Regions from separate parts of the Homo sapiens genome. Here region 1 is linked to region 2. The links come from fine-mapping of genetic effects on gene expression. A gene starts in region 2. The other region holds a variant in brackets. All regions are shown on one strand. Distances are between the middles of the regions. Region 1 has its middle 26 kb from the start of DCUN1D1. Region 2 holds the start of MCCC1 (methylcrotonyl-CoA carboxylase subunit 1).

What was found. PIP is the estimated chance that this variant, and not a neighbour inherited with it, causes the effect.
Region 1: its variant is the best candidate, but not a certain one, in a credible set for the expression of MCCC1 in whole blood (TOPMed, PIP 0.70).

What each region holds. Positions count from the first base shown.
Region 1 is chr3:183,003,546-183,008,782 of GRCh38, forward strand. No RefSeq gene overlaps it. Among named protein-coding and RNA genes, the nearest start is that of DCUN1D1, 26 kb to the left of the region's middle. The variant G/A (reference allele first, on the strand shown) is at 3,203.
Region 2 is chr3:183,097,280-183,102,516 of GRCh38, forward strand. It overlaps MCCC1 (methylcrotonyl-CoA carboxylase subunit 1), which reads right to left and starts at 2,217. Exons shown (of 19, transcript NM_020166.5): 1 at 2,073-2,217. The coding sequence starts at 2,161. RefSeq lists an enhancer at 2,143-2,282.

The sequences.
Region 1 (5,237 bases), 94 kb before region 2:
TGCAAATCTGAAAGATCTGGCTATTAAAAATCTCTCATGTGGCTATCCTAATTTCTGACTACTTGAGAAATTGATTTTCCAAAGAGTGACGTACTGTGTCAGTTTGGGCACAATATCTATCGTCATCAAAGAAAAGTAGGGGAACATTTCTTTTAGGAGAAAGATGCATTTTATAAATTGTAATACAAAAATTGAAGATTTGCCTTGGATTAACTCAAGATAAATAACTTCAAATATCTACACACATGCTGGATGTTCCCTTCTGTACCTCCCTCTACCTGTTTCTCTTGTCCATTTCTCCTCCAATCCTAGTTCTTTATTAGAGTGGACAAATACGGGTTTGTAGAAAAACAAAATTGAGAGCCAGGCACAATGGCGCATTCCTGTAATCCCAGCAATTTGGGAGGCTAAGGTGGGGGATCACTTGAGCCCAGGGGCTCGAGACCAGCCTGGGCAATGTGGCGAAACCCCATGTCTACAAAAAATGCAAAAATTAGCCGGGTGGGGTGGCGCACACCTATAATAGTCCCAATTACTAGGGAGGCTAAAGTGGGAGGATCACCAACCCCAGGAGGCAGAGGTTGCAGTGAGCCATGATCACACCACTGCACTCCAGCCTGGGCGACAGAGACCCTGTCTCCAAAAAAAAAAAAAAGGCAAAAATGAAGTAAAATATAATTTTCTCTCATTAAATCTTACTTCTCTTTTTGCTTAAAATAATATACTATGCTATAATAATACTATAACTTTTTTTTTTTTGAGACATAGTTTCACTCTTGTTGCCCAGGCTGGAGTGCAACAGTGCTATCTCAGCTCACTGCAACCTCCAACTTCCGGATTCAAGTGATTCTCCTGCCTCAGCCTCCCCAGTAGCTGGGATTACAGGTGAACGCCACCACACCCTGCTAATGTTTGTATTTTTAGAAGAGACCGGGTTTCACCATGTTTGCCAGGCTGTCTCAAACTCCTGACCTCAGGTGATCTACTTTCCTCAGCCTCTCAAAGTCCTGGTATTACAGGTGTTAGCCACCACATCTGGCCACTATCACATATTTAATAACATGTCCTTACACATTTAGGCCTTTACTGTATATTTTCTGAATATATTTGAAAATCATTCATTCATTAGCTCATTCAACAAGTATTTATTGAAGACCTATTTGATCCAATGAGTATTTTCCCTAACTTAGAAAAGGGCCAAATGATTTCTTAAATTATGAAATATAACAAGTATACATAAAAGTGCAAAAACTAGGCCAGGCACCATGGCTCATGCCTGTAATCCCAGCACTTTGGGAGGCCGAGGCAGGTGGACTACCTGAGGTCAGGAGTTCTAGAGCAGCCTGACCAACATGGTGAAACCCCATCTCTTCTAAAAATACCAAAAATTAGCCGGGCGTTAGTGGCGGGTGCTTGTAATCCCAGCTACTCAGGAGGCTGAGATTGGAGAATCACTTGAACCCGGGAGGTGGAAGTTGCAGTGAGCCGAGATTGTGCCATTGCACTCCAGCCTGGGCAACAAGAGCAAAACTCCACCTCAAAAAAAAAAAAAAAAAAAAAAAAAGCAAAAACCCAAGTGTGCAGCTTAACAGATTGTTGTGAAATAACCCCCTGCGTAGTCACCTTCCTACCTAGGTCAAGACACAGAACATCACCAGCTCCCCAGAGCACCAACACTTTCATTCCGGACACTACCCCTCCCAGCCCTCCAGTGGTCACCAGGACACAGGCCTATGTTCCATGATACTCAGAAACCTCCAGGACCCCTGCTTGTATGGGCCCCTTCCAAGGCCCTGGTCATCTGATTTTTGTAAAATTTTAAAAGTAAACATTCTACCACATTTGGCTAAGACTGCCTTGTACTTTCAAAACTATTTTTGTATATGTCATTTCACACTCTTTTTCTTAAGTAAGTTCTCCCCAAACTGTATAAGCTTCAGGACCTGCAAAACCTGGATGTGCCTCTGGAATTACTTTCCTGTTAAGTATTCTTTGCTTCTAGAGGGATTACACAATCTGAAACTTCATTTTCCAATATGAAGTGTTCCAACTATTTCCATGGGCGCTAAACTTTGGCTGATCAGGTTGCTACTTGGAGAGAAGAGCTGACTTACCTTTCATGGGGCATGGAAAGTAGTTGGTGGTTGAGTTTCCCAGCAGTGGACCACCAGAGCTGGGTGATACCTCAGCTTGGCTTGCTGCTTTGTTTTTATTTTCCCCATCTGCCCCTTCACCCTGTGCACCTTTCCCGTCCTTTCTGTGTAATTAATTGAGGAAGGGAAAGAGTGGTAGTCTCTGTAGAAACCTGTTTGGAGACTGTGGTTTCCACAGCATGTTAGATGACTGACATGGAATCTCAGATACTCCTCTGGATTTAATTTGACAGCAATGAAACACTCAATAGTGTTTTGAAAGCAAAGGACCTGCCGGGCGTGGCAGCTCACGCCTGTAATCCCAGCACTTTGAGAAGCCAAGGGGGGCGGATCACAAGGTCAAGAGATAGAGACCATCCTGCCCAACATTGTGAAACCGTGTCTCTACTAAAAATACAAAGATTAGCCAGGTGTGGTGGCACACGCCTGTAGTCCCAGGCTACTTGGAAGGCTGAGGGAGGAGAATCGCTTGAACTCGGCAGGCAGAGGTTGTAGTGAGCGGAGATCTTGCCACTGCACTCCAGCCTGGGGGACGGAGGGACAGAGTGAGACTACATCTCAAAAACAAAAACAAACAAAAAACAGAAAGCAAAGGACTCTTGGGGAAAGTGTCCAGGGGAGAGAAGGGAACTCTCATACATAAATTAATTCTTATGAAAACCCCAGAAGTAAGTAATAGTGTTATGGGAAAGGGGTTCCAATCCAGTCCCCAAGAGAGGGTTCTTGGATCTCGCGCAAGGAAGAATTCAGGACGAATCTATAAAATGAAAGCAAGTTTATTAAGAAAGTAAAGAAACAAAAGAACCAGTACTCCATAGGCAGAGCAGCCTTGGCTTGCTTCTTTGTGAGGGTGGCCCACGGAGGGGCAGCAAGGCTGGTGAATCACCTCCCTGGCTAGTTCCTCCAAGGCAGAGCTGCCAACCAAGGCCAACTTGGTTCAGCACACAGAATATTTACCACGAATCTAAGAGTTTGCCAAAATTTCAAAATCAGGAGATTTCACGCAAAAAGTTGGAAGATGTGACCGCCCTGGGCCCACATTCCCGCCT[G/A]GCCTGGCACTAGCTGGGTGGGGCTGAGGAGTAGCTGCTCTCCAAGAGCCCTGCTCGCCAAACCTCTCCTCCCCTTTCCCCCATGCTACCTCACTCACTGCTGTCTGTGTGCTTGTCCCTTTCACATTTGCATTTGCAAAGCCTGTTCTAACCTAACATGGTTTCCGTAGTGATCTTTAAACATTAAATTTGAAGCTAACAAGGAACAGGTTCCCTCAAAATACCCCAAGATGACTTTCTTGCCAATATTCCCTGAACTCTTTACAAAGTGGCCAGCAAGGCACCTCCCCAAGTGGAGTTAAACTATGTAAATGTACACAAAACAAGTAAGATTGGAAATATCCAAATGTTCATCTCCAGTGAAATAACTTTCCAGCCAGAATCAGTAAGAAGCAGCTAAGCCTAACTAACTACAGATCTGATCTGTGGTTCTTGATTTTTCATACGTATAAAAATCTCACCGGACGTCTTGCTGAGCCTCACCCCCAAGATTCTGATGCAGGAGATGTAGGGTGGGGCTGAGAATTTGCATTTCTAATAACTTCGCAGGTAGTGCTGCTGCTGCTGGCCCTGGACTACCTTTTGAGAATCACTGATGCATGCCACTCAAAATGCAGTCCTCAGGCTGGGCGCGGTGGCTCACACCTGTAATCCTAGCACTTTTGGGAGGCCGAGGTGGGCGGATCACCTGAGGTCGGGAGTTTGAGACGAGCCTGACTAACATGGAGAAACCCCGTCTCTACTAAAAATACAAAATTTGCCGGGCATGGTGGTGCATACCTGTAACCTCAGCTACTCAGGAGGCTGAGGCAGGAGAATCGGTTGAACCTGGGAGGCAGAGGTTGCAGTGAGTCGAGATCATGCCACTGCACTCCAGCCTGGGCAACAAGAGTGAAACTCCGTCTCAAAAAAAAAAAAAATTTAATTTAATTTAAAAAAAGCAGTCATCGGGCTGCAAGCCTGGCAGCTTGTTAGAAATGGAGACTCTCTCAGCCCTTCTCTAGACCAGTGGAATCGGGGGGCTGCAGGTGATTAGTAGGAATGTGAAATTTTCAGATGCACTAGACCAACTCATTGTTCCCAAACCTTCCTGGTCAAAACAACTTGGGGCATTTGTTGAGTCTACAGAATGCCAGGCCTTTCCCTTAGAGATTCTAATTCAGAAATCTACTTTTGGCAAGCACTCCAGGTAATTCCTGTCATCAGGGAATTTTAGGGAAAACAGGCTAATGGTATTAATACATCTAAAGAAAGAATATGTCAACAAAATGGAGATGAGCAAGTGAAGGAGGAAGATGGGAAATCTGAGGGGAGAGAACTCCTAGCGTGTGTCTTCAACCTGTAGCCCCCGTATGCGTTCCTTTTGCAGAGAGAGATGTTATCAAATTGTCGTATCCTCTGCAGAACCAAACCATACACCGTATTCCTTTTATTCGGGCCCCTTCTCATCAAGGAACCTCGTCATTATAATTTGGCTTCCATCCTCTTTTCACCCCGGGGGAAACACGCAAGCCAGAGCAATATAAATATTCTGATTTGAGTGAGAGGTACATTTCTCCCTGTGAATCAAGAAATCATAAAAAGGCCAGGCACAACGGCTCACGCCTGTAATCTCAACACTTTGGGAGTCCGAGATGGGAGGATCGCTTGAGCCCAAGAGTTCAAGACCAGCCTGGGCAACAAAGGGAGACTACAAAAATAAATAATAAATACATAAAAATTAGCTAGGCATGGCAGTGCATGCCTGTGGTTTCAGCTACTTGTGGGGCTGAGGTGGGAGGACCACTTGAGCCCAGGAGGCTGAGGCTGCCATAAACTGTGATGATGGCCACTGCACTCCAGCCTGGGTGACAGAGCAAGACCCTGTCTAAAAAAAAAATAGAAGTAAAAAAGAAGAAATCATAATTAAATGTTACATTATACTGTTGATACATTATACTGTTTGTTTTATTGGTGTATCTAAGAAATCAAGCCACTTTTGTTTTAACAGCAACATAAAATTTCTGTTTGAGAAAGAGACAAATACTTTTGCCCA
Region 2 (5,237 bases):
AGGTAGCTCTATACCAGCTTATTGTCATGTCTATAATTCTGCCACCAGAGATTATTTTCTGTGAGCTACTAAAGATTCATAACATAAAAATAATGTAAACTATCTGTGCTGTTAAGATTTTTTTGTTTTTGTTTTATTTGAGATGGGATGTCACCCAGGATGGAGTACAGTGGTGTGATCATGGCTCACTACGGCCTGGAACCCCTGGACTCAGGCCGTCCTCGCCCTCCTCATCCTCCCAAGTAGCTGTGACTACAAGTGTGTGCCACTACGCCTGGCTAATTTTTTAATGTTTTGTAGAGATGAAGCCTCACTGTGTTGCCCAGGCTGGTCTTGAACTCTTGAACTCAAGCAATCCTCCCACCTTGGATCCCACAGTGCTGAGAAACTGCTGAAAATACAGGCATGAACCAAGTCTCCTGGCAAAGAGTTTTACTTCTATAAGCCATTAACAACTCTAACACTCTCCAGAGTGACATACTTGAGGATAGTTCTTTAGACAATAGCTAAGCTTTGAAAGGGAAGACAGGAAATGGGTCTATGGTACTATCCTGAAGAGCCCTGGAGGCCTAAGAAAAGAAAAACCAGAAGAACAAGAAGAACATTAACATTACTTACACCAACTTTTTTTTTTATTTTTTTATTTTTTATTTGAGACGGAGTCTTACTCTGTCGCCCAGGCTGGAGTGCAGTGGCGTGATCTTAGCTCACTGCAAGCTCCGCCTCCTGGGTTCACACCATTCTCCTGCCTCAGCCTCCCGAGTAGCTGGGACTAACAGGCGGGACTATAGGCGCGTGTCACCACGCCCGGCTAAATTTTTTGTATTTTTTAGTACAGACGGGGTTTCACCGTGTTATCCAGGTTGGTCTCGATCTCCTGACCTCGTGATCTGCCCGCCTCGGCGTCCCAAAGTGCTGCGATTACAGGCGTGAGCTACCGCGCCCCGCCAACTTCCAACAACTTTCTTATGTTTCTCTGGGGCACTCCTACAATTAAGTAACTAAAAAGGGCATCTACAATATTTCTGGAAAATAAAAGCAAGCAAACGTTCATATAAATGGTTGAGTTTGCATTTATAGACTGATCTTATGTACCAGATTGTGCTTAAACCTCATTCCATGAATTAATTCATTTAGTTTTCACAACCCAAGGTACTCGTATCATCTCCAAGGTGAGGAAATTAAAGAAGAAATATTAAGTAACTTACCCAAAGTCACACACCTAGTGAGTAGCTAACTAAGACCTCAGCCTTGACTGCAGAGTCTGTGCCCTTGAACACTAAACTGTCAATCTTTCCAGAATGATGAAGGATGATAACGATGAAGCAAAAGAAGACAAAGAAGCAAAGCTATCTACAAGCCTGAGGGTTTTTTCACTGCCAGAGTTATTGCCACCAAAGCTTAGAGCTCAAAATTTGAAACAGAGCTGGAGTCAGGTGAGCTAGACTGAGTCATCTGATAGCGTTGTTCAAACTTGGGTACAAGAGTTTTTGACAAAATAATTTCCCAGCTCTGTGGAAGGTACATTTGCTCTTCTTGACAACTTCACTCTTCTAACAATGAGAAGGAACTCCAGGAGTCTTTCTCTGAACTGGACACCTGATGGGGCACAGCTGAACTGAAAAATGGCTTTGAGGGCATCCCGGCCCCATTTCTTACTAGCTGTGTTTCGTTGAGGAAGTCGTTGATCCCTTTGGGCTTCCCCGGAACCGGATTATAACAACGCTCCCACCTAAGGGGTGCTGCGAAAGCCCGATGTAAACGGCTACGAGCTGCAGCGACGGCGAGGGGAGCCTGGAGGATGGCGGGCCCAGTCCTCAGAAATGGAAAAACAGAAGCCAAAGGCGCGCTGAAGCGTGGATGTGCGGAAGCGGGGAGAAAGGGAAGGGCTGGTGGGGATGTCTTCCTCCCGACGCCGTGACTGCCGGCAGAACCCCTCCGAAAGTGCCTGGGGTTTTCCTACCGTCCTCCCCACACCGACCCTGGGTTCCGCCGCACCTCCCACCGCTCACGCGGGTCCGTGCACCCCTCGCTCCCGCCTCTGCCCACTGAGCCATGGCCCCTCCACCCACCTCGGCGGCAGGAGCAGGCTCGGGAGACGATGCCACCGGTTCCTCTCCGCCGCCACCAGCAGCACCGACACCGCAGAGGCCGCCGCCATGTCCCTGGAGCCCGGCCACTCCGTGACTCCCCAGTACAGAGGCAGCTGCGTCCCACACGCCAAACCCGTTCCTCCACTACGAAGCCTCGTGACCCCCGCCGGCCACCGTCGGAGCCTGAGCCTACCTTTGGGCTGATCCAAGAATGTGAGGGCGTCTCCACGAACACCAATCAAAGACCAGAGCCCGGCTTCAGTAGCGACGATTGGGCAGTCTGGCCACGTGCTCGTGGGGGTGTGGCCTTTGTTTCTGCGTCCCCTGGGGCCTGCTCTGACTAAGGCAAGGGTTTTCTCCATCCTCCCCCTCTTGGTTGCCTGTCACTGTTTCTTCCTGCATCCCGTGGGGTTTCTTCGCTCTCGTCACCTTCTGGGAGAAGAACCCTGGGGAAGAAGCCAAATGCGGATGGACAGCAGGATACACAATTCTCTAGTGCTCTCAGGGATGAAAAAATAAATAAGCTAAAGTGAAAATCTTTAAACCACCTGAGCTTAAAACAGGTATTCTAACTGACTATTGGGAAAAAGAGGAAGTCAAAGAGCAAACTGAGGAACATCTAGAGAATAAAGAAACTGTAAACACTACATGTAGATGCTTCATGAGGAAAGCAGGAGGGAGAAATTAGGGAAGATAAAGGAATAAATAAATGAATTCAGGAAACCAGTGTCAAAGGACTAATAAACCCACAGGTTCACAAAAAATAAAATAGTTATCTAATCAGAAATAGAGAAAAATGCACATTTGACATGATTTAAAAAACAAGCAGGGGAAAATCACAGACACAGGAAACAAATTATAGATTTGTAAGATGCTAATTTTGCTTAACTTCAAGTGAACTTAAAACTCTGGATGAAATGGATGATGTTACAAGAAAATACAATTTATCAAAATAGATCCTGGAAGAGACAAAATTTAAGCAAACCGTTACCACAGAAAAAATAGAGAAGTTTATCAAAGAACTATCCTTGCTACCACCATGGCCCACTTTCACCTTCACCTTCACCCCTAAAAGTTACAAAAGCCCTCCATGTCTTGCAAGAAAATTCCACACAAATGAGTAATTGACTCAAATGCTATTAATTCTGTCCCAGAGCACAAAAAAGATGGAAGTCTTCCAAACTCTTTTTAAAAAGTAAACATAACTTTGATACCAAAATCAACAAAGATATCACGCACACACACACGACAGACCAATTTCACATGTAAGTATCAGTGGAAAAATTCTAAATAAAATATTAACTACGCTGGGTGCTGTGGCTCATGTCTTGTAACCCCCCATTGAGATGTGACAGCGTGCTGGCAGTCCTCAGAACCCTCGCTTGCTCTCGGCACCTCCCCTGCCTGGGCTCCCACTTTGGTGGCATTTGAGGAGCCCTTCAGTCCCCCACTGCACTGTGGGAGCCCCTTTCTGGGCTGGCCAAGGCCGGAGCCCACTCCCTCAGCTTGCAGGGAGGTGTGGAGGGAGAGACACGAGCGGGAACTGGGGCTGTGTGCGGCACTTGCGGGCCAGCTGGAGTTCCGGGTGGGCGTGGGCTTGGTGGGCCCCGCACTCGGAACAGCCAGCCAGCCCTGCTGACCCCGGGCAATGGGGGACTTAGCACCCGGGCCAGTGGCTGCGGAGGGTGTACTGAGTCCCCCAGCAGTGCTGGCCCACCGGCGCTGCGCTCGATTTCTCGCCGGGCCTTGGCTGCCTTCCCACGGGGCAGGGCTCGGGACCTGCAGCCCGCCATGCCTGAACCTCCCACCCACTCCATGGGCTCCTGTGCGGCCCAAGCCTCCCCGATGAGCGCCACCCCCTGCTCCACGGCGCCCAGTCCCATCGACCACCCAAGAGCTGAGGAATGCGAGCGCACGGCGGCGCAGGACTGGCAGGCAGCTCCACCTGCAGCCCCGGTGCGGGATCCACTAGGTGAAGCCAGCTGGGCTCCTGAGTCTGGTGGGGACGTGGAGAGTCTTTATATCTAGCTCAGGGATTGTAAATACACCAGTCAGCACCCTGTGTTTAGCTCAAGGTTTGTGAATGCACCAATCGACACTCTGTATCTAGCTGCTCTGGTGGGGCCTTGGAGAACCTGTGTGTCGAAACTCTGTATCTAACTAATCTGATGGGGACGTGGAGAACCTTTGTATCTAGCTCAGGGATTGTAAACGCACCAATCAGCACCCTGACAAAACAGGCCACTGGGCTCTACCAATCAGCAGGATGTGGGTGGGGCCAGATAAGAGAATAAAAGCAGGCTGCCCAAACCAGCATTGGCAACCTGCTCGGGTCCCATTCCACGCTGTGGAAGCTTTGTTCTTTCGCTCTTTGCAATAAATCTTGCTACTGCTCACTCTTTGGGTCCACGCTGCTTTTATGAGCTGTAACACTTATCACGAAGATCTGCAGCTTCACTCCTGAGCCCAGCGAGACCACGAGCCCACCGGGAGGAACGAACAACTCCGGACACGCTGCCTTAAGAGCTGTAACACTCACCGCGAAGGTCTGCAGCTTCACTCCTGAGCCAGTGAGACCACGAACCCACCAGAAGGAAGAAACTCCGAACACATCTGAACATCAGAAGGGACAGACTCCAGACGCGCCGCCTTAAGAGCTGTAACACTCACCGCGAGGGTGTGCAGCTTCATTCTTGAAGTCAGTGAGACCAAGAACCCACCAATTTCGGACACGCCATCACTTTGGGAGGCTGAGGTGGGCCTCCCAAACTGCTTAAGCCTAGGAGTTTGAGACCAGCCTGGGCAATATAGTGAGACCCGCATCTGCACAAACATTTTTTTAAAAAAACTGGGCGTAATGATGCACACTTGTAGTCCCAGCTACTCGGGAGACTGAGGCAGGATCACTTGAGCCCAGGAGTTTGAAGCTGCAATGAGCTCTTATCATGCCACTATACTCCAGCCTGGGTAACAGAGTGAGAGAATGTCTCCAAAAAAGAAGCAAAAAAAATAACTGAAGTATCCTGTAGCATGTGAAAAGAATAACACACTGTAAATAAGCAAGGTTTATTCCAGAAGTATAAGGATGATTCACTATTAAGAAATCAATTAATAAAATGAATATTAAGAGTTTAAAAGAGAAAA